Homo sapiens: one gene and its partners. The protein of the gene in region 4 purifies or fractionates together with the protein of the main gene of each other region. This does not show direct contact. Each region holds a gene or a part of one and is shown on either strand. Other genes may lie near its edges. The genes, in order: CAND2, TSPOAP1, POMT2, CD244, CARD19, PDXDC1 and IMMT.

What was found.
Region 1: the proteins of CD244 (region 4) and CAND2 purify together in Homo sapiens (affinity purification with mass spectrometry; 3 studies listed by BioGRID and IntAct, with this or other methods). This does not show direct contact.
Region 2: the proteins of CD244 (region 4) and TSPOAP1 purify together in Homo sapiens (affinity purification with mass spectrometry; 3 studies listed by BioGRID and IntAct, with this or other methods). This does not show direct contact.
Region 3: the proteins of CD244 (region 4) and POMT2 purify together in Homo sapiens (affinity purification with mass spectrometry; 3 studies listed by BioGRID and IntAct, with this or other methods). This does not show direct contact.
Region 5: the proteins of CD244 (region 4) and CARD19 purify together in Homo sapiens (affinity purification with mass spectrometry; 4 studies listed by BioGRID and IntAct, with this or other methods). This does not show direct contact.
Region 6: the proteins of CD244 (region 4) and PDXDC1 purify together in Homo sapiens (affinity purification with mass spectrometry; 3 studies listed by BioGRID and IntAct, with this or other methods). This does not show direct contact.
Region 7: the proteins of CD244 (region 4) and IMMT purify together in Homo sapiens (affinity purification with mass spectrometry; 3 studies listed by BioGRID and IntAct, with this or other methods). This does not show direct contact.

What each region holds. Positions count from the first base shown.
Region 1 is NC_000003.12:12,817,021-12,821,028, reverse strand, and holds part of CAND2 (cullin-associated NEDD8-dissociated protein 2), read right to left. Parts: coding exon 3,153-4,008; intron 944-3,152; coding exon 848-943; intron 1-847.
Region 2 is NC_000017.11:58,322,048-58,326,055, reverse strand, and holds part of TSPOAP1 (peripheral-type benzodiazepine receptor-associated protein 1), read left to right. Parts: intron 1-327; exon of another isoform or gene 328-342; coding exon 343-522; exon of another isoform or gene 523-606; intron 607-1,053; coding exon 1,054-1,245; intron 1,246-2,510; coding exon 2,511-2,588; intron 2,589-2,674; coding exon 2,675-2,758; intron 2,759-3,016; coding exon 3,017-3,106; intron 3,107-3,279; coding exon 3,280-3,402; intron 3,403-3,643; coding exon 3,644-3,748; intron 3,749-4,008. UniProt on the Homo sapiens protein: Required for synaptic transmission regulation. It probably controls the recruitement of voltage-gated calcium channels to the presynaptic membrane, and modulates neurotransmitter release.
Region 3 is NC_000014.9:77,282,762-77,286,769, forward strand, and holds part of POMT2 (protein O-mannosyl-transferase 2), read right to left. Parts: coding exon 3,983-4,008; intron 2,872-3,982; coding exon 2,720-2,871; intron 2,281-2,719; coding exon 2,189-2,280; intron 1,113-2,188; coding exon 1,036-1,112; intron 1-1,035. UniProt on the Homo sapiens protein: Transfers mannosyl residues to the hydroxyl group of serine or threonine residues. Coexpression of both POMT1 and POMT2 is necessary for enzyme activity, expression of either POMT1 or POMT2 alone is insufficient.
Region 4 is NC_000001.11:160,842,294-160,846,301, forward strand, and holds part of CD244 (natural killer cell receptor 2B4 isoform 1 precursor), read right to left. Parts: intron 1-4,008. UniProt on the Homo sapiens protein: Heterophilic receptor of the signaling lymphocytic activation molecule (SLAM) family; its ligand is CD48.
Region 5 is NC_000009.12:93,098,880-93,102,887, forward strand, and holds part of CARD19 (caspase recruitment domain-containing protein 19), read left to right. Parts: intron 1-4,008. UniProt on the Homo sapiens protein: Plays a role in inhibiting the effects of BCL10-induced activation of NF-kappa-B. May inhibit the phosphorylation of BCL10 in a CARD-dependent manner.
Region 6 is NC_000016.10:15,026,693-15,030,700, reverse strand, and holds part of PDXDC1 (pyridoxal-dependent decarboxylase domain-containing protein 1), read right to left. Parts: coding exon 3,995-4,008; intron 1,824-3,994; coding exon 1,735-1,823; coding exon of another isoform or gene 1,669-1,734; exon of another isoform or gene 896-1,668; intron 751-895; coding exon 645-750; intron 1-644.
Region 7 is NC_000002.12:86,163,955-86,167,962, reverse strand, and holds part of IMMT (MICOS complex subunit MIC60), read left to right. Parts: intron 1-1,318; coding exon 1,319-1,455; intron 1,456-4,008. UniProt on the Homo sapiens protein: Component of the MICOS complex, a large protein complex of the mitochondrial inner membrane that plays crucial roles in the maintenance of crista junctions, inner membrane architecture, and formation of contact sites to the outer membrane.

The DNA of each region.
Region 1 (4,008 bases), on a different chromosome or scaffold from region 4:
CTCCTGACCTCAGGTGATCCACCTGCCTTGGCCTCCCAAAGTGCTGGGATTACAGGCGAGAGCCACCGCACCTGGCCCAGCACCCCCATTTTATAGCTGAGGATGAGAAGACTTGTCCACACTCACACACCCAGGGAATAGCAGGGCCAGGATTTGAACCTGAGGCAGGTGAGCTCCAAAACCTCTCTCTACTGGGCTGCCCTGCCTAGATGTGGGCTGAGACTCCAGTGTGGCCCAGTGAGGGGCTGCAGGCTCCAAGCTCTGAAGGGGCGAGGGCTCTGCCTTCCTAGGAAAAACCCAGTGGTCCTGCCGAGCCCCAGAGGGAGGTCTCAGTTCCTCTCCTCCCAGTGAAGGCTGCTTGGGCTCCTCAGGCCAGAAGGCCCCTCAGACAGAGGGCGATCTAGTGGACAGGCGGGGCCGGGGGGAGCACTCTTCCCTGCCCCACTTTGGGGCCCGCAAAAGCTAAGGCATGTGAGAGGCTGGTGGTTTTCCATTCCCAAGAGTCTATATGTTGATGAAGCATCTTCTCCCTCAGTTGCCCATGGGCTTCCAGGACAACTCTAGAAAATGCAGATAATAAGAGTTTCTCACGCCCATTTGACAGATGAGGAAAGCGAGGCTTAGAGGTGTGATGGGCATGCCACACCCACCCATGATTGAGTGGCAGTAGGAAGGCAGGGATGTGAACCCAGGCCTTTTAACTGGAGGGCCAGGCCCTGCTGCCCATCATGGGCACACCTCCCGGGTCTCCCATTGCCCTTGGCTATTGGGTAGTAAACATCAGCCCAAGCTCAAGGACTGGGTGGGGGCACTGAACAAGGTGGAGGGGCAAGAGGTAGGTGCTCACCGATGAAGCTCTTCAGGAGGGGGTCAATGGGATGGGGCTGGTCCGAGATAAGGAACTTGACCGCTGTGATGACGGTGCTCCGGGTGTGTGGCCGACCTGCAGGACAAGAAGAGGTGAGTTAGTGAGGGGCAGGGGCCAATCCTGGAGGCTCACAGATCAGAAGGTGCTTAGGCTCCTCCCCCTGCTTCCCTGGAAAACAGAACTGTACCCCCTCCCCATCTCTGGGAAAGTGGATTCTACCATTTCCCTTGGCAGCCTTGAATCTCCCCTCAATTCTTCCTGCTGCAGCTGAAACAGTAGGACTGCCAGTGCTCAGGTAACACCACAGGCTGCAAACAGGGAACCAATAACCAAGACAGGAACTGCTCCAACAAAGACCTTCCCTCAGGCCTTGGGATTTTTCAGACATGTTATCTCAATGAGTCCTAACAATGATCCTATTAATAATAAAGTAGTATTAAAAGAACCAATAAAATCACCAATAAAAATCATCTCTTTGACATATGAGGAAAGAGAGACTCAGAGGGTTTAAGTTCATGTCTAGGGCCACACAGCAGATCCAGAATTCCTGGCTGGGCCCCTCTTCCTGGGGCTGCGTTCTGGCTGGTGGTCAGGGAGGCCTAACAGAACTCGGATCACCTCCAGGCTCGGTCACAGAGAGCTTGCTTACTTGTGCTTTGCCGCTTGCTTTCTGAGTAGAGAAGCCCAGTAAAGAGGGGAAGTACATTCCCTTAATGAAGGAAACGAATGGGTGGACGCTCCACCTGCGTCTGAATCTCTCCTCAGTGGCTCGCCCCCTTTGCTCCCTGCCCAACCCCAGCACAATGCAGTGAATGGGCTAAGGTGTTTCCACCCCACAGGCTTTATGTTCAGCCTCGAGGAAAAGTTTACCATTTGGTGCTAAGGCATGAATGAATGGAAGAGTTACTGAATTCAGACTTTCAGCTTTTACCTCTTTCCCTTGCCAGCCTGACTGGCTCCCAGGAAGATTTAGGGTGGCTGATGAAGACAGGCACAAGAGAGTAAGATTAAGTGAACTGAAAACAAGAACAAGGCCAAGGACGACTGAAGGCAGGGAGGTGAGAAGGAGACTAGCAGGAAGATGTACAGAGAGCATCAATAAGGAAGTCCCAGGAACCTACTAGAAGCAGACCACTCATCTGGCTCTAAGCTTCCCAGCAGTTGGTGCTAAAAAGGAAATGTGACCGGGTGGCTGGTTCAACAGTGCACGTGAGATAGAAACAAATAGGTGTTTAGGCAAAGCAGGGCTCCTCTGCATCTTAACACTCTCGTCTCTCAAGGTTGTGTGATGTAATAGACAGTGTCCTCAACAATGTTCTTCCATCCAGTCCTGAGGCCAGACAACTGCTTCTTACGAACCCAGCAACCCAAGAAGGCCTTAACTGAAATCACTAACCTACCTAGTAACAACAGCAGCTCTTGATTTACTCAGTATTAATTACTGTAGGTACCACATAGGTTACCAAACACTGTACCTGCATTCTGTCAAGCAGAGCATCCACTGGTTCTGTAAGGGGCCAGCTGGCCAGCTCGAAGCCCACTGGCCTTTCATTCTGGGAACTCTCATTTTCCTAGGAGCCTGATGACCCTACCTGTCTGCTTTCCACCTCCTGAAGCTAAGACACCTGGTGTGCCAAAACACGACAAGCCAAAACGCCTGCCCCTCCTGGTTCTTGCCCAGCCCTCTCCAAGCCTCGGGGGCATGTCAGCCTGTCCCCGTCTATACTGACGTCTGCTCTTGGCTCAGGCTAGCCGAAAGAGCTGACCCTCTGCAGGCTGCAGTCTACGGCTACTGGGAAAACTGTTTTTGTTGACCTCTGTGTGGAGCACTAAGCTACTGTCCACATCAAGGATTATGAAGTTGGCATCATGAGGTTTTTTGTTTTGTTTTTTTTTTTGGTAGAGGCAGGGTCTCACCATGTTGCCCAGGCTGGTCTCAAACTCCTAGGCTCAAGTGATCCACCCACCTCAGCCTCCCCAAAGTGCTGGGATTACAGACATGTGCCACCATGCCTAGCCAACATCATGAGATTTTTAAATGTATTTGTTGTAGGGACCAATCAAGGACTCTGTCCCTTCTATCCCACAGTCCCATAGGAGGAAGGCTTTAAGTCTCAGGTATCACTGTGTGTTCCTCTGTAGCTTCCTTGCCTCTGTCGTATAGATACCGTGATTCTTGTATCCAGTGACTTGAAATAGCTCACTCTGCCCCAGCTGCCTGGATGCTCAGTGGCAAACTGCCCACCTCCGAGGTGGGCTGCCTTGCCCACACCTGTGTGCCTACCTGCAGCAAGCTGCTTCCGCAAGCGGGGCAGAAGGAACGAAGGGTTCACAAGGACCAGCTTCCCAATGCACTCGGCCACCACCCCCCGGGTGCCCTCCTCAGCACCCTCGCAGCGCTGGAACAGCAAGGCCCAGATGTCCTCGGCGTAGGGCTTCAGGCTGTCAGGCTGGGCGGCCCCCAGGGCCTCCCTGAGTGAGTGCAGCAGCAGGTACTGTCGTCGGGGCTCAGCCTCGATCTGCTCCAGCAGGAAGGGCAGGAAGTCGGGCAGGCTGCCAGCACCCACACGGCCCAGTGCATACGAGGCTGCAGCCCTCACATCCTCACTGGGTGACCCCAAAGCTTCCAGGAGCACCGCCTTCAGCTCCCGCTGGTGGCCTGGCCCAGCCACCTGACCCACCTCAGCCAGCGACAAGAATGCCAGGACCTTGACCCCCGTGCTGGAGTGGGGCGACCTGGCATCGCAGACCAGGCGACTGGCTGTGCTTGCCGCCTCTTGGGGACAGGCAGCTGAGAGGGCTGCCACACACCGGGCCAATGAGTGGAACACCTGCTTGTGCAGGCCAGGCCCACCATCCACAGCCTGCTCATAAACAGGCGCAGTGAGCAGGCTGATGAGTTTGGCATAGTCCACACACGGGGGACGGGTCCCTACCAGGGCCTGCAGGAAGCCTTCAGCAGCTGCCAGAACCCCGGCTGGCAACAGGGGCGAACGCAGCAGCCGCAGCAGCTCTGAGAGCACAGGGCCACTGACCTCCACCAAAGAGGCTGGCTGGGCCTGGGTCACTGTGGCAAGGAAGTCCACAGCCAGCTGGGCCACATGCATGTCGCTCTCGTTGACCAGGGCAGGCAGCTCAGC
Region 2 (4,008 bases), on a different chromosome or scaffold from region 4:
GAGCAGGATTCTGGATTACCACGTGCTGGTGCTGGCGGCAGCCTTCTGCTGAGCTCATCTCAGGGTATAGAGCTGGAGTGGGGGCAGGGATGAGACCCATCACAGTGGCAGCCCCAAATTAGCAGCATCCTTTGATCCTAAACTCAGATGTAGAGTTAATCCTTTCCAACTGCTGGGATGGGGTAGAGTGAGGCTGCTGGTTTTCTGAGACCCCAGTCAAGGTGGAAGCAGGTGGCTACCCCCCTAGGTTTTCATGCTAACTCCTCCTTTGGGAGGAGATGAGGAGTGGGAGAAGTGCCCCAGCCCTCAGGTGACCATTGGCCTTACCCCTCCTCTGGCTAGGTGAGTGCCCCCTTGCCCCGGCCGGGGACCAGCTTGGAGTTGTGTCGGAAGGCCCTAGCCCGCCAGCGAGCCCGGGACCTCAGTGAGACAGCCAGTGCACTGCTGGCCAAGGACAAGCAGATTGCTGCCTTGCAGCGGGAGTGCAGGGAGCTGCAGGCCAGGCTCACTCTGGTGGGCAAGGTGCGAGGAGGCCCTGGTCACCTCTTCCAGCTCAGCCCTGCACAGGGCCATCTGCCTGTTGTGGGATGCAGACAAGATGTTAATGAGACGCAAATGAAAGGGAGGGTGGAGGTTGCTGGGAGTAGGTTCCCCTGGCAACGGCCCAGGTGGGAGAGGGGAGAAGGGGGTGGAGCCATGAGTCCCAGACCTGGGCATTTCTGTGCTCCAGGCTTGAGGCTGTTTGCCGGTGGGTCTGGCTGTATGCATCCACACATCCCCTGTGTGAAGGGATGTTCACAAGGTATTTAGCACAGTGCTGGGCACATTGAGAGCACCCAAGAAATAAGTTACTGAGAATGACCGCATAGGGGCTCGCGGGAGCATGTGGCCACATACGCATGCACATGTAACCAGGCATGTACCCATGGGAGGGTGTGCACAGTCTCGCGCATCGGAGCCCCTCCAGCAAGGCGAAGGGCTCTGCAGGGGATGGCATGGGGCGGGCAAGGATTAGGCCTGAGTCCCCTCCCTGTCCCTGTCCCCCAACCTCAGGAGGGTCCCCAGTGGCTCCACGTGCGGGACTTCGATCGGCTGCTGCGCGAGTCCCAGCGGGAGGTGCTGCGGCTGCAGAGGCAGATCGCGCTGCGCAACCAGCGGGAGACGCTCCCGCTCCCGCCGTCCTGGCCCCCGGGCCCTGCTCTCCAGGCCAGAGCAGGGGCGCCTGCTCCCGGGGCCCCGGGAGAGGTGAGCGCCGGCGCAAGGGCAGGTGTGTGGGTGCGTGCAGATGGGTGGGGGGAACGACCACCGGGATCTCCCCTGCACCGTGCTCAGAACCCCAAGGACTCAGTGGTGGTGTGCGCACTCCCAGGGGCTGGGGAGCTTTCCCGTCCTGGGCAGGGTCCACCTCCAAGCCTCCCGTGCTCGTACCTGCGCCGTGCCCTCCCCTGGGGGCTCCAGGGTTCCGCCCTCCATAGGCCTGCGCCCAGCGGGGCCTGGCCGGCCGCCCCTGCCGCGCTGCCAGTGGTACGGCCCGGCCGCAAATCCCTGGTTGTCCTGGCAGCCGCCCGGGGCCCAGCCCGCGCCGCCTCCTCCCGCCGCCGCCGTAGAGCGGGGACGCCCCCGTCAGCGCCCGCCTGGCTGGCCAGGCCTGGCCCCAGCTACCCGGGGGCGGCGGTGCGTCCGCCCCGGCTCCAGGTACAGGCAACCCTCACTGAGCGGGGGGCTTAGGCAGCCCCTGTCTCGAGGGCCAGGGACCCGCTTAGGACCCCCAGAACTTAAGGGTCTGGCTTCTCGCCATCATCCTAGGTAGGCAGCAAGTAGGTCCTCCTCCTTCTGGGAAGAGGGCTGGGAGGAGAGACCAGGCAGTGATCTGATAGTGACCAAGACCTCCGGGTGGGGGGAGGCTTCTTGCTCAGATTTTGTCTCCCTGGCTGGCCCTGGAAGGGAGATGCACCCTCCCATCAAGACCTGTCCTCCCCCAAAGTTTGCACGGATAATCGGAAGGTGTGGTAGGGTGGGCTTGGGGGAAGCCAGGAGAAGGGTCTGGCTGGACTTGCGCTGCTCTAGGCCAAGCCCAGATTTGGATGATACAGAACCCCTATCTTGGGGAACACCACATCCCCGGGGGCCCAGGCAGCCTCCTAGTTCTCTGCCAGTCGCTGAAGGACACCCAGGACAGTTATTGAGTGCAGAGCAGGGCTGCTGCTGGAAGCTAAAAAGGGAAAGCTTTGGCCTGGATAAAGGACCCATCTCCCAGGGCACACGTGGGTCCCAGGATCTCAAAGCACTTATGGCTCCAGGACACAGGGGTGCAGCCTTTGTACTTACACATCAGCTGGAGACAATGGGAGGTGGGTGGGCAGACAGTACCCCTCTTTGCTCTTGCTAGGCAGGGATCTCTTGCTGGCTGAATGATGGGGTGGGAACCTGCTCTGGGCAGGCTGGGCTGGGGCAGGCTGCCCTGGGGCCCTGTTCTCAGGTGCCAGCCCCTTGCCCCTGGGCATTTCCAGGCCACGCCCCAGGAGGATGCGGACAACCTACCCGTGATTCTAGGGGAGCCAGAGAAAGAGCAGAGGGTGCAGCAGCTGGTAAGTCCTAGGTCAAGGGCTGGAGGCAGCCTGCTGTGGGCAGATGTACCTTCCCTCATGAGGAGCACTTGGTTCTGACCCCTCAGGAATCGGAGCTCAGCAAGAAGCGGAAGAAATGCGAGAGCCTGGAGCAGGAAGCCCGGAAAAAGCAGAGGCGATGTGAGGAGCTGGTGAGCTCTTGAGGGCAACCCAGAGGCCAGCTCCTCCCTTCACCCCGGCCAGCCAGGTGGTGGGCTCCCTCTCAGCTCTGCTCCCACCCCTGCTGCCCTCAAGAACACATTTTCCCTCCTGCTCCTTTCCTTTCCTGGCTGGTGCAGGTTCCAGCAGGGGAGGAAGGCCTTGCCTGGGAGGAGGGCAGGGTCCTCTGTGTGGGGAGAGGGGGAATGTGGGTGCTGGGCTCCCTCCTGAGAGCTCCTCTGCCCGCTCAGGAACTGCAGCTGAGACAAGCGCAGAATGAGAATGCCCGCCTGGTGGAGGAGAACTCCCGGCTCAGTGGGAGAGCCACAGAGAAGGAGCAGGTACCACTTCCGCCCAGGTGCTGTGGAGACCTGTGCTCCCACCACTGCCCCGGTCCCCAGCCAAGGGGCTTTCTCCTCCACCCCTGAGCAGGGGTAGGGTACTGTTCCCCCTGTGAGGGTGCTGGTGGGTCAAGGCTCACCCACCCAACTCCCTGTCACTGCCCCCTCGCCAGGTGGAGTGGGAGAATGCGGAGCTGAGGGGCCAGCTCCTGGGGGTGACACAGGAGAGGGACTCAGCCCTTCGCAAGAGCCAGGGCCTGCAGAGCAAGCTGGAGAGCCTGGAGCAAGTGCTGAAGGTGAGGAGATGGTGCAGGTGGGAGAGGGTGCTGGGCCCTGGCATGGGGAGCAAGTGGGACAGCAGAATATTCTTAGTGAGGGGCACTAGCTCTGAGGCCTGGGCCTGGAGCTGCTCCAGGCTCAGTTTCCTTTGTAATAGAGGAATCTGGAGCAAATGGTGTTTGAGGCTTCCTCATCTTAGATCTTCTCTAGAAATGGCCAAGTAGGGGCTCTGGCCTTGACTCAGATCTTGTGTTTCAGCACATGCGGGAGGTGGCCCAGCGGCGGCAGCAGCTGGAGGTGGAGCATGAACAGGCTCGGCTCAGCCTACGGGAGAAGCAGGAGGAGGTCCGGAGACTGCAGCAGGTGGGGCGGCAGTGAGGGAAGCTGGCAGGCTGCTGGACACCAGCTTTGCCACTCACTCATTCCACAAGCATTTACTGTGTGCCCGGCACTGTGCTAGGCGTCGGGGAGACTGTGGGGAACAAAGACCAGGTCCCTGAGCAGTCAGCAAATTAGCATCCAGGAGTGAGCTGATTTCAGACACTGATGAGCACAGTGGTGGAGAAGAACAGGGTGATGTGACAAAGTGACTGGGATGGGGTGAGGAGCCACTTTAGAGGTCA
Region 3 (4,008 bases), on a different chromosome or scaffold from region 4:
AGTCAACTATATGTACTGAGTACTGCTTACATAATCACTTCCAGGGAAGTCCACTTGACAATGGCTTACCAGGGGAAAAATAACAAGTGCTACACCTCCCTGCAATGCTGTGGGTAGAGTGATAATCACATATCTGGCTTGAGATAGTGATTCTTAAACATTATTCCTGCAGAACACAGGTTTTCCATAAGCCAGAATAAGGGGGTCTTCCACTAAACAGCAGGACTACAGCAGGGGAAAATTTAAGCTAGTGAGTAGAATTTTCTCAATTTAAAGATTTCTTCTCTGAATTTTTCTTAAACCTTTGATGCTACAACTGCTGTCAGCTACTAATGATAGAGAGTGCAAACAATGTCTTAGAAAACCTTAAAAAGAATCAATCATGCCCTGCCTAAGCAGTTTCTGTCCAGGAATATGAGTGGGCTCGTGGCTGGGATTTCATGCTGCATATAAACAACACACTCAAATTAGCTATCCATCCTAACTGATCCTGATTTCATATGATGGAATGAACTATCAGTATCTCATGATCTTCAACCAAGAGCACTATGATTTTCAGGGGCTCTGCCACTTGGGCAGATTCACAAATCACTTAGAGGTGAAGGAGTGTAGTGGTAACTAGCAGTAACTCTAAAAGCCTACCAGCCTGGCTCTGAGGGCTGGATCTACCTCTTACACTTAGCTGTGTGACCCTGGGCAAGTTCCCTGACCTCTTTGTATGTCAGTTCCCTCTCCTGTAACTGGGAATGATGGCAACCTCCATATGATTGTAATAAGTATCAGATGAGTATAGTGCTTAGCGTAGTGCCTGGCACATGAGCTGTACAAGCAGTCACTGGTATCACCATCATCACCACCATCCTCATTCTGTGGTGAGGGAAATGCCTTTGAGGATCACAGAAAACCGTAGTAAAGATGCTTTCAAATTCCTCCACAAGGGGGAATGGATCTGTAGCATGGCATTGACTTGTGATCCAAATTCATGGCTGCCCAAAAGCTCTTAGAGACGCCATGAAATGAGAAGGGGACACATACCCGGATCATGACCATGTGGGATTCCAGCAAGATCTCAGGAAAACTGGGCTGTAGCACATCCAGGCTGATGTTTGGCACTAGGGGAAAAAAATGCAGGAGAAAAGCCTTTGTCATACATTCTTTCCTCAGTCTGTCCATGGTGTCCACATTCCCACCAGAATCCAAATGCAGCCTTGCTGACAAGTTCACAACTGTTGAGGAGACAGAAGAAAGCTTGGCCCAATTCTTGATCATTTACTTAGCTGTATGAAGAACTCATCAGGCATTCTAAGAAATGCAAAGGAAATAGACAACAAGGTTTCACCTGCTTGGTGCTCCAACAGCTCCCAGCACCATTGCTTTTCACTGTGGTACTGGCTCAAATGCTGCTCTCCTATTAGGCATAAGGGACAGCTGCACAGCCCCCGAGTCACTGTGGCCCTTTGAAGGGCCTGGGAATGAGGAATAAATCATTCTGGACGCCTGGAGCAGCTGCTGTCGGGATGGGGACCAAGTCTGTCTCCTCGCCAATATGTCCACAGGGCCCCATGTGGTTCCTGGCATACTTGATAAAGAGTTGTTGAATTAGTTGATTAGTGGGTTTGGCTAGATTAGGTGGGAAGAAGAACAAAATGAAGGCACACATAAGCTTGAGGTGGGTAGTTTAGGAAAACAGATGATGAATCCAAATACTTATTGAGTTGAAGCTGACAACGCAGTGGAAATATCAAATTGGAGCTTGGGTGTAGAGATGTGGGGCACAGATCAGGGCTGTGGCAGTCACTTTCTATAAAAGCATTGGCTGGATATGTGGGGGGGCGGGGGAGCGACTCTACACTGAGGCATAAAGGGAAAGTAGCAGCTTGCTCCAAGCCTGGAGGCTGGGGAGGTGCCCATGGTGCAGGGGAGAGAGGAGCCCAGAGGAAGACGAGACAGATGGATCTGCAGATGGCCACTGGCCACTTTAGGGAGAGGAGTTTACGGAGGGAGTGGATGAGAAGGAAAAGGAGTATGCTATGTAGGTACAGACAACTCATAGAAAGAGAGTGTTAACAAGGAACAAACAGCAGCAAGTTGAAGGGATAGCACAGTTTACAAACGCTTACTTTTCTAAGATAAGGGTTTCTTATAAATGCTTCCCTCCAGAGCCAGCCCAGAAAGTGACCTCACTCACACTTGGGATTGATATGGTCCTCCACATTCCAGATGGAGTTGAGGGTTTCTTTCAGGTATGGGGTGCAAGTAACTTCCAACTGCTCCCAGCCCCTGTGAAAAGCAGAAGTCACAGATGTCTCTCAGAAGACGTGAAATCCACCAGAGAGTGACACTGTCTTCTGCTCTTAAATCCACAGGCTCCTTCTCTTTTCCACATGGTGGCCATTATTTCTTCATGTTCCATGTTGGACAACTATCCTAGGATAGTCTAGCATACAGTATTCCCATTTTAGAAAAAGACATAGACCCAGAGAGTTATTAGCACCAGCCAGATGTGAAAATGTTGAACTATCAGAACACATAAAACACCGAAGCTCCCCCGGAGTTCTGTGCTCCATAATACACCTGATATCTACTCTCCCTCCATCTGCCACTAAGAACAAGCAGACAGCAGGTGAACACAGGAAAACAAAAGCTTCTGGCATACTCCTTGTAGAGTGAAAGGAAAATCAGGACCCTCGATTGGGACAGCAAAACCCTAGAGACTTACCACTTGGGCAGAACCTTTCCCGAGGAGCCCAGGACACAACCTGTGACCAAATGGATGAAGCGAATTCGACTTCTCAGCACTTTGATCCGGTTTCCAAATTTCCTGTTTACGACCTCAATCCGCCAGAAATCATTTGAGTCCCCTGTTCCATTCTGCCATAAAAGCCAAGAAAAAAATACAAAGAAAGTGAGGGGACTTTAGAGAAAACGTGTCAGAAAGGGAAATGGCCACCCAGATGCCACCATGTTATGAAGGTCAAAGACCAAATTAGGCTCAATGATAGAGATGGGCAAGGTTACAAGAAGGCCAAAGAAATATCCCAGGTGATTGGCATTGTCCCAAAACTCACTATTACAACCAAAAAACAGTAGTATGACTCCTGGAACCAGAAGTCCAGGAGTCCAACTCTTCACTTCATAGAACTAGAGTTCAAGTTCTAAATACCTGTCTTTGCCCTTCAACCAAACTCAAGACATCACTCTGAGCCAACAGAAACAGATCTGGGCCATTTGCATCCATTACCTTGGCTATCTAGGTATTCACTCATCTAAGCCAGAAAGGTCTGGCCTGGCTATTGCACTTTGGAAATTAAGACATGTATGTCTAATTCTTCTCAGAAGATGCCCACAAAGAAGATTAGAATGTTCACAGTCTTGACCTAGCACAATGTGGAATGAGCAAACAGAAAGAGGGCTGGGAAATCCACCTGAAGGCCAGAATCTGTATACAGTTTTCCACTAGTAGTTTTTGTCTTCAGTTACTCCCAAAGCCATAAGTACTCATAGAGCTTTTATTTATTAGCTGCATCTCCTTGAGGTAGTAAAATACAAAAGCTATGGATAATATCCCTCTGCAGAACAGGGAAATGATACTTAAAAATAAAGCTAATGAGAATTTGGGATCTGGCAAAAGATAAACATACATGTTGTTCATCTGGGGTCATATTGTGGGTCCTTGGCTTCTATGTCCAATGTGATTTTAAAAGAGATCCAAATAGTATTCATATTTGACATTTATTAAGTATCAGAGCATGTAAATGGCATGGTTATTATGTGAGGAGAGAGATGGAGACAAACAGACTTCATAGGCTGCTTTTCCCAGAGCAGGCCTAGCCAAAAAGTGCCCAAATGTTAAGAGAGTCCCTGTGCAGCCTCTTATCCTCAGGAACATTCCAGAATTCTGGGGAGGAGATATCCCACCACACAGCCCTGAGCCAAGGCCCATAACTTTTACGTCCTACTCACATCCCCGTTGCTTACTTACTATGCCATAGCCGGTGACCTGATAGT
Region 4 (4,008 bases):
GGCTGGAGTGCAGTGGCGCAATCACAGCTCACTGCAGCCTTGAACTCCTGGGCTTGAGGTGATCCTCCCATCTCAACCTCCCTAGTAGCTGGGAGCACAGGTGCTAGGGAGCTTATTTGTTTACTCTTTGTAAAGACAGCAGTTTGGCTTGAGAGGATAAATTCTTAACCATGATGCTATAAATACCACATCTAAGGTGACTCCCTCCAAGCAGTGCTGAGGCAACTACTAATGGCAAGTAGTGACTGTTGGAAATTCTGAATGGTCAGGCCCAGGAAGACTAACCGTCCAAGCTGAACTCATGGCCCCTCAACCATCCTCTCACAGAGCTGAATACATAATCCTCTCTCGTGGCACTTGGTTCATTGGATTTTGGTCATTACTTATTGATGTTTGCCAGTTTTTCAGTGATCAGAAAGTCTCCACAAAAATTTCTCCCTAGAAAACAATTTTAAAAATAAAACTACACTTCCCAGGCAGATCCCAGCACTTGCCTCTCAAAGAATCAAGATGAAACCTAATGAATATGGGGGTGTGACAACCTAGAGCAATTCTGTGCAGTCAGTGTACAAAACTGGAAGTTCCTACAGCCATTTTTAGTAATAAAGCTATGTGGCATGGCCCAGCAGGTGCAGGAAATTAAAAAGTCTCTCTGGGTGAGTTGGGGAGGCTCAGGGAGGATTTGGAAGAGAAAATAAGAGATGGGGAGAGTTTTACAAGTGGCTCCGTTAAAATGGAGGCTATTAAGAAGAGAGCAATTGAGACAGAGGGGTTTTTATATGTCCAGTGCATTATGAATGCAGTCTCTCCAAGCCACAGCTTCACCCTGGCATTTTCTCAAGAGACTAAGTAAATAATTAAAGGACTTGTAATACTATTTGTTTGATGAAATATGTTTCTTTGATCTTGATGCTCCTAAGACTAAAACACATAGGTTCCCATTTATATTTATATGACTTGTACTGGCTCTGCCCATTAGCAAACCAAAAGCTTCTCAAAAGCAGAGACTGTGCTGTGCATCTCTGTGTCTCTGTCTCCTACGATCCTAGCACTATTTATAAGAACAAGTCAACCTACCAAATATTGCACAAAGACCCTGAGAACAAAGGTGAATGGAAAAAATCATTACTAAACCTACAAGGAGGACATATACTGTCTTCATCAATTATTCAGTCCTTACTGAGTCCCACTGCAATCCAGCCCCTGAAGAGGCAGGGCCTCTTCATGTATAAGGCATGATTCCTGACTCCAGAGAGTTTGTGATCTGGAAACAGAACACTTTCATTCTACAGCATCCCCTTAATTGTTGAGATAAAAAATCATCGAAGGAATTCTAATTATGTAATGAAAATCCAGGTTAAGACATGCTAACCAATCCTCCCACTAAAAATAGCTAGAAGAAAAATGAACAACATGTAAAAGCACATTGTTAAAGTTATCAGAGAGTTTATAAAGCAGTGAAAAATTATGGGGCCAATATCTGGAAGAAGGAAATTCAGAGAGGTGAGATCAGCATTTCTGACTGTTGTTCCCTGGAGGCATCTTCTGATTCCATAAATGGCAGCTAAAAGGCTGAGAAGCTGAGCAGAGCTCACAATAAAACTCAAGGAACTAAGAGAACATGAAGTTCACGTCCCTCCTATTAGAAAGCGGGTATACATAAAATCCATCAGTGTTGAGGTTGGTACCACAGAGGGCTATACCCAAAGAGTAAGAGTGAACGAGAAATGAACAGCCCTCACAGGAACTGAAGCTCAATTTTGAATCATCACAACCCTGGATTGAACTAATGATCTGGAATCTCTGGTAGCCCTAACCTGGCTGCCAACTAGAGGCAAATATAAGTTATGACTAGAGGAAAATAACATCAACCAGAGCATTAAATTATTCCTAGAATGTTTCATACACAATATCCAAAGTGAAGTATAAGAAAAGGAAACATCTCCAAAAACCAACAGAAGAATAGAGACAACAGAAACCAACAAACAGGGCATCTACATAATAGAGTTGTCAGTCATAAACTTTAAAGTAATCATGTCTAATATGTTCAAGGAAATAAAACATAAGTTTAAGAATTTCAGCAGAGAACTAGCGTGATAGAATGCAAAAATACCATGTCCTTGCAATGTGACTTTACAGCTCCTTCTGTTATCAAGAAATGGGGTTCATTTCCCTGTCTCTTGGAACTGGGCTGGTCTTCATGATGAAACGCAGCAAAAATGATGTTCTGCTAGTTCTAAGCCTAGATCTGAAAAGGCATTGCACATTTCTACTTGTTCTCTTGGAACCTCATCTGGCTGACCTGTGAACAAGCCTAAAATAGCCTGCTGGAGAATAAGATATCACATGATACAGAGATAAGCCAACACAGCTAAGGCCATTCTAAATCAGCTAGCCCTGGCCTGGTGCGGTGGCTCATGCCCGTAATTCCAGCACTTTGGGAGGCCAAGGCCGGCAGATCACTCAAGGTCGGGAGTTCGAGACCACCCTGGCCAACATGGTAAAACCTCGTCTCTACTAACGATACAAAAATTAGCCAGACATGGTGGCACACACTTGTAACCCCAGCTACTTGGGAGTCTGAGGCACGAGAACTGCTTGAACCCGGGAGATGGAGCTTGCAGTGAGCCGAGATATCATGCCACTGCACTCTAGCCTGCATGACAGAGCAAGACCTAATCTCAAAAAACAATAAAAAATAAATAAATGAATCAGCCACCCGTGGCCAGTCTGGCAGCTGACCACACATGCATGACTGATGCAAGAGGAAACCAAAAGAACCACCTAGCTGAGCCCAGCCCAAATTGCCAACTAGCAGAATCACTAACTAAATAGGTAGTTGTTTTAAACTACTGGATTTTGGAGTAGGTCATTATGCAGCAATAGTTACCTGAAATTGGATTTTTTTTAAAGAATTCAATGAAAATTACAGAAATAAAATGTAAAATAACTGTAAAACAAACTCAATTGAAAGGTTAAAAAGGCCATTTAGATGCCATTGAAAAGAGAATTAGAAAACTGTTATAAAATATCCAGAGTGAAGTAAAGAAAAACAAAAGGATAAAAATACACAAGAAGGAGTGTAAAAGATATTTGAGATATAGCAAAAACAAAACAAAACCCCTAAACTAAGTGTAATTGGAAAGCAAGGAGACGAGAGAGGAAAGAGGAACTAAGCAAAAGAGATAAAAGATAAGAATTTCCCAAAACTGACAAAAGCCATCAAGATAGATTTGTAAAATGTGTTACAAACCCCAAGCAAGATCAAAACAAACCGACAAGCTGGGCACGGTGGCTCACGCCTGTAATCCCAGCACTTTGGGAGGCCCAGGTGGATGGATCACCTGACGTCAGGAGTTTGAGACCAGCCTGGCCAATATGACAAAATCCCATCTCTGCTAAAAATGCAAAAATTAGCCAAGTATGGTGGTGCACACCTGTAATCCCAGCTACTTGGGAGGCTGAGGCAGGAGAATCACTTGAATCCAGGAGGTGGAGGTTGCAGTGAGCCGAGATCACGCCACTGCACTCCAACCTGGGCAACAAGAGTGAAACTCTGTCTCAAAAAAAAAAAAAGAAAAAAAACAAACCAATGAACAAAAGACAACCTCTCAATACATCAAAAAAATTATGGAAACCAAAGATAAATAGAAAAATCGTAAAATAGCCAGAGTGGGGGAAAACTAAATTCCCTTCACAAAACAAACAACTTAGCTGACATTTCAGCAAAAATAATAAAAAGCAGATGATGGAATGGTATCTTTTTTTTTTATTTTTCCATAGGTTATTGGGGTACAGGTGGTGTTTGGTTACAAGAGAAAGTTCATTAGAGGTGATTTGTGAGTCGGTGCACCCATCACCCGAGCAGTATACACTGCACTCTATTTATAGTCTTTTATCCCTCACTCCCCTCCCACTTTTCCTCCCAAGTCACCAAAGTCCACTGTATCATTCTTATGCCTTTGCATCCTCGTAGCTTAACTCCCACGTATCAGTGAGAACATACGT
Region 5 (4,008 bases), on a different chromosome or scaffold from region 4:
GGACCATACATTGCAGAACTCTTTTTTTTTTTTTTTTTTTGAGACAGAGTCTCATTCTGTCACCCAAGCTGGAGTGCAGTGGTGCAATCTTGGCTCACTGCAACCTCTGCCTCCTGGGTTCAAGGAATTCTTCTGCCTTAGCCTCCTGAGTAGCTGGCTCAGCCTTCTGAGTAGCTGGGAATACAGGCGTGTGCCAGCATGACCAGCTAATTTTTTTTGTATTTTTAGTAGAGATGGGGTTTCACCATGTTGCCCAGGCTGGTCTTGAACTCCTGACCTCATGATCCATCTGCCTCGGCCTCCCAAAGTGCTGGGATTATAGGCGTGAGCCACCGCGTCCGGCCTGCAGAACTCTTTAGTGAGCACCTACTGGGTGCTCAGCCAAGTGGGCAATGCTGGAGAGGACAGCCTTGGGCGTGCTTTTGGACTGGCAGGGAGTAGACTGCTGTAGCTGATTACAGTGAATTTCCATGTTAATTAGAGAGGCAGAACGTCTGAATATCAAGAGGTGGTCCTCAACATGGCTGTGCCTGGGCCTGGATCTTGATCTGTCACTTCATATCTGGTTGCAGTCTTGGGCAGGTACCTTATCTTCTCACTGTGCCTTAGTTTCCCTACCTGAAAATGGGGCTGGTGGTTGTCCTTATGTTGCAAAGCTGTTGGAAGGATGAAGGTTGTAGGTGACGTAGGGCTCACAGAGTGCCAGACATATGGGATTGCTCTGTGAATTTTGGCTAATTCATCTTAGTTCTTTAACGAGAGGGCTGCAGGCGCTGGACCCAGACTGCCCAGCTGGGCCTGTCCATGTGGCCTTGGCAGGTCACTTGACGTCCCTGTGCTCAGCTTCCTCACCATGATGGGGCTGCTGGCAAGTCCGCATAGGCTGCTGTGGGACTCAGTGCAGGTGAGGGCTGAGCCAGCCTTTCCAGCCCCCAGCCATCTGCCTCCCTGCGCGGCCCACGGTGAGTGGCTTCAGCCAGATGATGGAGTGGCTGATGGCCTCAATGTGGGCATCATCAGGGGCCCTGTGAACCAGGATGGCCCCCCTATTGTTCTCTGGAGGGCAGGTATCTCTGGGGTTAAGGATACGTTTGTGGGTTTGCTTGGTGAATGCCAGCCCGCACCCCTACACTGTGAGCCCCTGGAGGATGGATCTGCCCATCACCGTGGTCCCCAGCCCCGCACAGGGCGAGCGTACTGAGACGGGCTGTTCTCACCTGGGCCTCAGTCTGTAGGGTCTGCACAGGGCCCCACGGAGCATGGCTGCTTTTGGGGTGGGTCCACATTCTGGGGTACAGAAAGACCAGCCAGGAGGAAGTGGCAACTGGAAAGAGACATGACAAAGTAAAACAGTCTGTTGAGTCTGTGCCTCAAGGAGTGAACCCAAGAGGGGGCCCCACTGTGTTCAACATGATGACACTGTTTTTGTTTTTGTTTTTGGTTTTTTCTTTGAGACAGAGTCTCACTGTTGCCTGGGCTGGAGTGCAGTGGCGCACTCTCGGCTCACTGCAACCTCCGCCTCCCAGGTTAAACGATTCACCTGCCTTGGCCTCCCAAAGTGCTGGGATGACAGGCGTGAGCCACCGCGCCCAGCCTTCATTTCTTTTTAGCACTGAATAATATTCGTTGTATGGATAAACCAGAGTTTATTTATCCATTTACATTTTTTGTGAGAAAATATATGGAAACATAACATTTACCTTCTTACCCATTTTTTCAGTGTACACTTCAGTGATACTAAATACACTCACAGTGTTGTGTAGTCATCACCACTGGCCATTTCCAGAACTTCTTTATCATCCCAAACAGAAATTTTGTACCCGTTAAACAATAACTCCCCTTTCTCCTTCTGCCCACACCTCCTGGTAATCTGTATTCTATTTTCTGTCTCTATGAATTTGACCCCTCTAAGTACTTCATATAATTGGAATCATATAATATTTGTCCGTTTGTGCCTTGTTTATTGCACTTAGCATAATGTTTTCAAGGTTCGTCCATGTTGTAACATCCACGTATCATAATTTCCTTCCTTTTTAGGGCTGAGTAATATTCCATTGTACATAGGTATATACCACATTTTGATAATTCATTCGTCTTTTGGTGAACATTTGCACTATTTCCATCTTTTGGCTATTTTGAATAGTGCTGCTATGAAAACCAGTGTGCAAGTATCCATTTGAGTTCCTGCATTTATTTATTTATTTATTTATTTATTTGAGACAGAGTCTCACTTTGTTGCCCAGGCTGGAGTACAGTGGTGTGATCTTGGCTTAGTGCAACCTCCGCCTCCTGGGTTCAAGTGATTCTCGTGCCTCAGCCCCCTGAGTAGCTGGCACTACAGGCGAGTGCCACCACGCCTGGCTAGCTTTTTGTATTTTTAGTAGAGACGGGGCTTCGCCATGTTGGCCATGCTGGTCTTGAGCTTCTGACCCCAAGCGATCTGCCCACCTCAGCCTCCCAAAGTGCTGGGATGACAGGTGTGAGCCACCACCCTCGACTGAGTTCCTGCTTTTTGTTTTCTAGGGTACATACCTAGAAGTAGAATTTCTGGATCACACGGTAATTCTTTTTTTTTTTTTTGAGACGGAGTCTCACTGTCGCCCAGGCTGGAGTGCAGTGGCATGATCTTGGCTCACTGCAACCTCTACCGTCCGGGTTGAAGCGATTCTCCTGCCTCAGCCTCCCAAGTAGCTGGGATTACAGGTACCCGCCATCACACCCAGCTAATTTTTGTATTTTTAGTAGAGACTGTGTTTCACCATGTTAGTCAGGATGGTCTCGATCTCCTGACTGCATGATCTGCCTGCCTCTGCCTCCCAAAGTGCTGGGATTACAGGTGTGAGCCACCGTGCCGGCCATCACAGGATAATTCTATGTTTAGATTTTTGAGGACCTGCCATACTGTTTTTTTCCACAGTGGCTGCACTATTTTACATTTTCACCACTAATGCCAAAGAGTTTGAATTTCTCCATATCCTCACCAACATTTGTTATATTAATATATAGCTATCCTAATGAGTACGAAGTGATATCTCATTGTGGTTTTTATTTGAATTTCCTTAATGACTAATGATGAGCATTTTTTTTTTTTTTTTAATTTGAGACCAAGTCTCGCTCTGTTTCCCAGACTGGAGTGCAGTGGCGCCATCTCGGCTAACTGCAACTTCCACCTCCTGGGTTCAAGCAATTCTCCTGCCTCAGCCTCCCAAGTAGTTGGGATTACAGGCACGCACCACCATGCCCGACTAATTTTTGTATTTTTAGTAGAGACAGGGTTTCTCCATGTTGGCCAGGCTGGTCTCGAACCCCTGACCTTAGGTGACCTCAGGTCATCTGCTCCCCTTAGCCTCCCAAAGTGCTGGGATTACAGGTGTGAGCCACTGCACCTGGCCTGATGAGCATTTTTTTGTGTGCTTGATGGCTAGTTGTATATTTTCTTTAGAGAAATGTCTATTCAAGTTCTTTGCCTATTTTTGAATTGGGTTCTCTGTGTCTTTTGCTGTTCAGTTGTAGGAGTTCTTTATGGAGTAAGGATACTAATCCCTTATGAGATATATGCATTGCAAATATTTCTTCCATTTATGTGAACTGTTTTTTCACTTTCTTTTTTTCCACTCTTTTAATTAAAAATAGGGTTTAATTCTAGACTCTCTTATTCTATGCCAGTGACCCATATGTGTGTCTTTATGATAGTACCACATTGTTTTCATTATTGTATATTTTTACACTAAGTTTGGAAAGCAGGAAATATGAATCCTCCAACCCTGTTGTTGTTTTTTTTTTTTTTTAAGATTTTTGTTGTTGGCTATACAGGTATCTTGAAATTCTATATGAGTTTTGGGGTGGGTTTTTCTATTTCTGCAAAAAACACTTAAGATTTTGATAGGGATTGCATCGAATCTGTAGATTGCTCTGGGTAGTGCTTGCAGCAATGTTTTGTGGCTTTCAGTGTACAAGATTTTTGCCTTCTTGATTAAATTTTTTCCTAAGTATTTTATTCTTTTCAAT
Region 6 (4,008 bases), on a different chromosome or scaffold from region 4:
GAGGTGGGAAGATCACTTGAGCCCAGGAGGTCAAGGCTGCAGTGAGCCATGATCGCACCACTGCACTCCAGCCTGGGTGACAGAGCAAGACCCTGTCTCAACAACAACAAAAAAGGAATTCATGTGATGACTTTTTTTTTTTTTTTTTTTTTTTTTGAGATGGAGTCTCCTCTGTCCCCCAGGCTGGAGTGCAGTGGTGTAATCTCAGCTCACTGCAACCTCGGCCTCCCAGGTTCAAGTGATTCTCCTGCCTCAGCCTCCCAAGTAGCTGGGACTGCAGGTGTGTACCACCATGCCTGGCTAATTTTTTGTATTCTTAGTAGGGGCGGGATTTCACTATGTTGGCCAGGCTGGTCTCGAACTCCTGACCTCAGATGATCTGCCTGCCTTGGCCTCCCAAGGTGCTGGGATTACAGGTGTGAGCCACCATGCCCGGCCAATTCAGGTGACTTCTGAATTCTCATTCTGATTCTGGTAAGTTACATGGGAATGCTAATCTACCTAAATTTAGCCCAAAAGAAAAGAAAATGCCCCTCCAAAAAGAGCTGCTAATAACTCTAGGAGAATGGAGTATCATAAGGGCAAGCTAATCTACCCAGCAGCCCCAGAACAAAAGCAAGGGATGTCCACCAAGCCTGGTTTACCTGCTGCGGTCATCAAAGGGCTGAACCGCAAACACGTGCCCTCAGCTTCCAGATCCATGACTGTGAGGCCGCTTGCAGGCACCAGCTGCTTCAGCTGTTCTCCCAGCTGTGAGGAGGACACAATGAACACCCTCCTGTAACAAGGGACTCAGACGTCTTCAGGACCCACCCTCATCCCCTCGGCCCCAGACCAAAGAGCCTCCTGGAGAGCTGATTCCTGCTCTTTTGACTGTCTGATTACTTAGAGCAGCTTTTTAAAAACAGTAAATTTTATGGTTTTTTCTTATTAATACAAGTTCATTGTAGAAAAATTTAGGAAATACAAGTAAACAAAAAGAAGAAAATAACAATGACCCACAATATATTACTAAGCGACACCCACTGCTGACATGTGGTCTGCCCCCAGCGTCTTTTCTCCTAGTGGCGGGCAGGGAGTTGTAGTTGTTGTCATAAAACATGCTACTTGACACTGCTTAGTAACCTGCATTGATTCATTTCGTTTATGACCAGTTCCTTTCTGCTTGAGACACTCAGCTCTGTGGTCTCTCACAGCTGTGCTGAGCCCCAGCATGGATGTACCAGGACTTATCTGCCAACCCTGCTAGGCTGGGCGTGTCCAGCATTGGCTAGAACTGCTGCTGCCGCCATCCCACACTGTTCACAAGACCCTTCAGACTCAAATCCTAGAGCTGCTATTCAGTGCCCAAAACGCTATCAAAGTGCAGGCCTGGCTCCACACTGCCAGCTGCAGATGCTCGGCAGACTCTGCCTGGGGCTCCCGGCTGTGCTGCCCAGGCTCACCAGAACCCACCGCAGCTGCCCTGCAGCCCACCTTTTGCCTGTTGTCTCACAGCCTTATACAGCAGCAAGGAAAGTGAGGGAGCAATGCCAGAAGGACTTGCCAGAGGTGACCCAGCTCGTGAGGTGGTAACGCAATGGGGAACAGAACTCCAGAGCAGGCCCAGCACTGGCAGGGCGGCTCCTCCTGTGGGCCTCAGTTCCCATACACGAGCACGCGTCACCCTCACCAGCAGGTCGGATGGTGATGGACGGGGACCTGAAAGGAAAGGGGGGTGACTGCCATTCTCACCCAGCGATTCAGCGCGTCACACGAGTGCCTCTCCCGGCCGACTCCTGAAGGTGTCATGTTGGGCACTGGGACGGCTTTAAACACCGGATCTGACACCAAAACACAGAAAGGGAGTCACTCCCAGAAACACGGCTGACCAAAAAAAACACCCTCCAAACCCCACATCATTCCCATCCCAATATTAGCCCCAGGGCACTGACTCGTATTACTGAATTCTCATGTATTATCTGACAGAAGGGCTACATTTCTTTTTCCTCGTGATCTATGTAACACTTGAATACATTCACATAAGACAGAATTATTAATTTCATTTTTGAAAAGGTTTGCTTTCAAGGGATTTCAAGGGGAAACAGCAATTGTTTTAAGTTACTAACTAGTTTACCAAGCACCGTGCGAGGTCTGTGAGTGCCACGATCATCTAACTAGGCCTCACAGTGGGTGCCAACCCGTGCCAGGCACAGAGCCCGACACTTGGGACAGAAGGCAGGTAAGGTTTCTGTCATCTTGGAGCTTACATTTTAGTTGAGGAAACAGACCATAAAGAAAGAAAATCACTCCATGTGGTTGTTAGTGTCACAAGTGAAGCTGGGGGCTCTGATAGAAAATGATGGAGTCCCCTCAGGCACGATAGGCAGGGAAGGCTGAGGATGTGGATACTTAGTGGAGACCGAAATGGTGAGGAGGAGCTGGCACCAGAAGAGAGAAATGTGTGTAAGACAGAGGGAACGCCGAGTGTTAAGCCCTTGCGGTAGGAAAGGGCAGAGTGTTCTGGAGCGCGGAGAAGACTGGTCTGACTGAGGCACAACGAACAAGAGGGAGAGTGGAAGGGGGGAAGGCAGAAGCGAATTCGGGGCAGAGTGTGCAGGCCTCATGGGGCATGGGAGAGCCTGGCCTTTGTTCGACCGAAATGGTAAGATACCCAGGGGCTCTGGGCAGGGAAGTGACACTGATACGGGAGTGCTGGGAAGGGAAGAGCGTGGTCCCTTTAAATGACACAGAAGCGGGGAAGGGAAGTGCTGGGGAGAGAAAGGCGGGTCCCTGGCTAGGACTCTACCCCCACGGACCTAGGTGAGGACAAGCACTCCTGCCTTCCCCCAAATGTTGCATTTCCCAAGACCACGCTGGCCCACCACACCACCATCCTGGGCCTATAAAAACCTGAGACCCTAGTGGGCAGACAGAAGTGGCTGGATGGCCAGAGGAACACATTGGTGGAAAAAGACACAAGCGGCTGGTCATGGAGAGCAGGCCGGCAGAAGAGCACCCCGACAGGCCCCGGCAAGCCAGCAGGCCATCAACCACGGGGACGAGGCGGAGTTTGGCCAGGGCCGCTGAGCGGCCCAACTCCAAGGGAAATCTGTCTCCCTTCTGGCTCCCCCATCAGCGGAGAGCTACTTTCATTCAATAAAACCTTGCACTCATTCTCCAAGCCCACATGTGATCCCATTCTTCCGGTACACCAAGACAAGAACCTGGGATACATTAATCCCTCTGTCCTTGTGATAAGGAAGGGGGTCTAAGTGAGCTAAAACAAGCTGCCTACAGACGGCTAAATTAAAAGAGCACACTGTAACACATGCCCGCTGGAGCCTTAGGAGCTGTAAAACATTCACCCCCAGATGCTGCCATGGGGTCGGAGCCCCACAGCCTGCCCGTCTGTATGCTCTCCTAGAGGTCTGAGCAGCAGCGGGGCACTGAAGAAGCGAGCCACACCCCCATCACATGCCCTGCGAGGGGGACAAGGGAACCTTTCCGGTTTCAACACCATGTGACTTCCACTTATAACCCTCTCTGCCAGGTGGAGAATGGTCTGGAATGGGCTGTGTAGAATGTATGAAAGTCAGAGGTCAGTTGACAGGGGACAATGGCCAACCAGGTAAAAAAAGAGTGGTGCCCTGGACTAGACTGGTGGCACTTGGGTCATTCTTTAAGATACAGATTCCTGGGCACAACCTATTGACTCAAAATATGTGGGAAGTAAGACCCACAAATCTTTATGTTCAAGCAACTCTTTCTTAGCCATTCCAGCACTGGTCCAGGGACTGGCATTTGGGAACCCCTGGTTTAATCACCGCAAACTATCAGCAAATTGCTAAGGCGTTTCGGACTGTAGTTTTCATGAAAATTATTACATTTTTCTGAAATGCTGACTGAAGATTGTCAGCAATAAAAATATTTTGAACTATTTAACTTGAAATGGTATCAAATTCAAAGCCTTTAACACAGATATGAAAATAACCCTCTTTTAAAATTCACCGACCTGAGCCTGGTAAT
Region 7 (4,008 bases), on a different chromosome or scaffold from region 4:
TGTTTAAAATGAAGAAAGCTGATGGATTTGTTGAGTTTATAGCCACAATATGTAAAAGGGGCTATAGTGTCCTAAACCTTGTTTCTCCCATTTGAAATACATTACCCTTCTTTAAATAATTTTGAAAAAAAAAAACACTTTTTATTTTGAAAAAGTTTAGATATACAGAAAAGAAAAAGTAGGCTGGGCACGGTGGCTCACGCCTGTAATCCCAGCACTTTGAGAGGCTGAGGTGGATGGATCACGAGGTCAGGAGATCGAGACCATCCTGGCTAACACGGTGAAACCCTGTCTGCTAAAAATACAAAATATTAGCTGAGCGTGGTGGCAGGCACCTGTAGTCCCAGCTACTCAGGAGGCTGAGGCAGGAGAATCGCCTGAACCCAGGAGGCGGAGGTTGCAGTGAACTGAGACGGTGCCACTGCACTCTAGCCTGGGCGATAGAGTGGGACTCCGTCTCCAAAAAAAAAAAAAAAAACAAAAAACAAAAAACCGGGCACGGTGGCTCACGCCTGTAATCCCAGCACTTTGGGAGTCCAGGGTGGGCGGATCATGGGGTCAGTAGATGGAGACTATCCTGGCTAACATGGTGAAACCCCGTCTCTACTAAGAAATACAAAAAAATTAGCTGGGCGTGGTGGTATGCACCTGTAGTCCCAGCTACTCGGGAGGCTGAGGTAGGAGAATGGCGTGAACCCGGGAGGCGGAGCTTGCAGTGAGCCGAGATCGCGCCACTGCACTCCAGCCTGGGCGACAGAGCGAGACTCTGTCTCAAAAAAAAAAAAAAAAAGAAGTGTAATAAAGCTTCATAGATTTATCATCCAGACTAAATTATCAGTATTTTACCATGTTTTCTTTTTTTTTTTTGAGAGAGTCTCGCTCTGTCGCCCAGGCTAGAGTGCAGTGGCATGATCTCGGCTCACTGCAAGCTCCACCTCCCAGGTTCAAGCGATTCTCCTGCCTCAGCCTCCCAGGTAGCTGGAACTACAGGCACCCGCCACCATGCCTGGCTAATTTTTGTATTTTTAGTAGAGACGGGGTTTCACCACATTGGTCAGGTTGGTCTCAAACTCCTGACCTTGTGATACGCCCGCCTCGGCCTCCCAAAGTGCTGGGATTACAGGCATGAGCCACTGCGCCCGGCCTTTACCATACTTTTAAGTGAAACTTTGATTCCCTAAATTTGAGTCTCATGTATTTTGTTCCTTTTTAAATTTTTTGGGAAATGCAATGGAAGACTAGATAGGAGAACAGCAAAAGTTTAAAGTCATTTATGGGGGTAGGATTTGTTTTTTAACTGTTCTTTTTTTTTTTTAAGCTCTAGCCAAGAGCTTAGAAGATGCTCTGAGGCAAACTGCAAGTGTCACTCTGCAGGCTATTGCAGCTCAGAATGCTGCGGTCCAGGCTGTCAATGCACACTCCAACATATTGAAAGCCGCCATGGACAATTCTGAGGTGAGCCCAATGAATGATTAGAAGTGTTCTGGCTGTCATGACTTGGAGGACAAAAAGAAAAATCGAGGGTGGAGAGAAGTGTAATATTTAACAGACTGCTTTCTTCCGTATGATATCGGCTTTCTCTCACTAGGGGAAGATAGTCTGGAATAATTAATCTTTTTTTGTTATTGTTTTGAGACGGAGTCTTGCTCTGTCGCCCGGGCTGGAGTCCAGTGGTGCGATCTCGGCTCATTGCAACCTCCACCTCCCAGGTTCAAGCGATTCTCCTGCCTCAGCCTCCCGAGTAGCTGGGATTACAGGCTCCCGCCACCATACCCGGCTAATTTTTGTACTTTTAGTAGAGACAGGGTTTGCCATTTTGGCCAGGCTGGACTGGAACTCTTGACCTCAAGTGATTTGCCTGCCTCGGCCTCCCAAAATGTTGGGATTACAGGCGTGAGCCACTGTGCTTGGCCTTAGAGTAATTATGTTTAAAAAACAAACTGAAAAAAGCCTTTAAGTTTTTTAGAATGAATTTTATACATTGTGCTTTACTATATCTTACAACACCGATGCAGCGCAAGAATTAGTTCAGATTTGCTTTCATATTTTAATAGCACTTAAATATTTTTGTTGTTTGCTTTAAAATTGCTATTTCCATAGGTAAACTTTTTAAGATACTTCTCAAACTTCACATGCAGTTTTAAGAAATAATACAGAGAGCTCTCATGTTCCCTGAAACACCTGCTATTTTAAATGTTTATGATTATTTATGCGAAACACTTCAAAGAATGAAGTAATAACATTGATTTTTCAAAATTTAATACTGGGACTTAATACATTATTTTATAATTACATTAAGTTATTCAGTATGTATAAATGTATCTCTATTCCAAGTCATTTAAGGAGTAAATTAAAGTAAAATGCATAAATTATTAATCTTAAGGATCAGGATCATACATGGTCAGTAAAGTTACTTTGCCATCATAATTGTAGTTTTAAAAAAAATTTTACACACACTTTACATTGTTTCAGTCGTATGTACTTATATTACAAAAGAGTTTAATTAGACCTCTGATGTTAGTAGCAAGAAACTACAACCTTTGAAATTTTAAGGAAAATTCCATTTTATTCAAAGTCCAAGAAAAATACTTAAATATCAGAGTTCAGTCAGCAAAGTGGAAACCACCCAGGAAATTTAATTTGCTGGTTACCGATATGGGAAGGCTAGAAGTTGCGTGATGTAAGGGTGTTGGGTTCAAACCCAAGTAGACCAGTATCCCTCAGAAGGACACGGATTGGAAGCTTTAAATGCCATGTTACTACTTGGGTATAAGGGTACACAAGGTGGTATTTCATCTTCCTAACGCACATAATGTGTAGCACATGGTGATTAGACAGTGTAAAATCTATTGCAGTCAAGATTTTACAATCTAATGGTAGCAGTTAACAGATGAGAGTATTAGCTAATGTACAAAATAATTGGAAAAATGTATGAACACATTTTGGAATGTTAAGAATGAATTCCAGCTTTTGTTTTTTCTAGTACAAGAAGCTACAGGTGCACATGTAATTTCTAATATATACTGAATAACTTTCACAAAGCAGTGTTTGTGAAGAGTTGGATTTGGTAATACTAGGATTTAGTTTGGTTGTAGGGGAATCTGTGTCTGTTACAGGGTAGGTTTTCCTTGGACTTCTGTAAGCAGGAGTACCTTCAACAAGGGTGATAAATTTTGGCCCCCAGATATGTCATTGACATTTACATGCTTTGTAATTCTATTTGGGTCAGTTCATGTGGCCCAACTCAGCATCCATTCCTTTTTTTTTTTTTTTGAGACAGAGTCTTGCTCTGTCACCAGGCTGTAGTGCAGTGGCGTGATCTCTGCTCACTGCAACCTCTGCCTCCCAGGTTCAAGCAATTCTCCTGCCTTAGCCTCTCAAGTAGCTGAAATTACAGGTGCCCACCACCACACCTGGCTAATTTTTGTATTTTTCGTACAGAGAGGGTTTCACTATGTTGGCCAGGCTGGTCTCGAACTCATGACCTCAAGTGATCTACCTGCCTCCACCTCCCAAAAGTGCTGGGATTATAGGCGTAAGCCACCATGCCTGGCCCCAAATCAGTATACATTCTTGATGTATTTTATTTTCAAGATGACTAAAGCGGTCCAGGCGTGGTGGCTCATACCTGTAATCCCAGCACTGTGGGAGGCTGAGGCTGGTGGATCATTTGAGGTCAGGAGTTCGAGACCAGCCTGACCAACATGGAGAAACCCCGTTTCTACTAAAAATATAAAATTAGCTGGGCATGGTGGCCCATGCCTGTAATCCCAGCTACTCGGGAGACTGACGCAGGAGAATCGCTTGAACCTGGGAGGTGGAGGTTGTGGTGAGCCAAGATCGAGCCATTGCACTCCAGCCTGGGCAACAAGAATGAAACTCCATCTCAAAAAAAAAAAAAAAAAAAAAATGACTAAAGTGGGAATTCACTGAAACATCAACTTTATTTTTCGCATCATAAGATATACTTTGCAAAATTTTACATAGAACATTCTTTTTTTTTGGAGA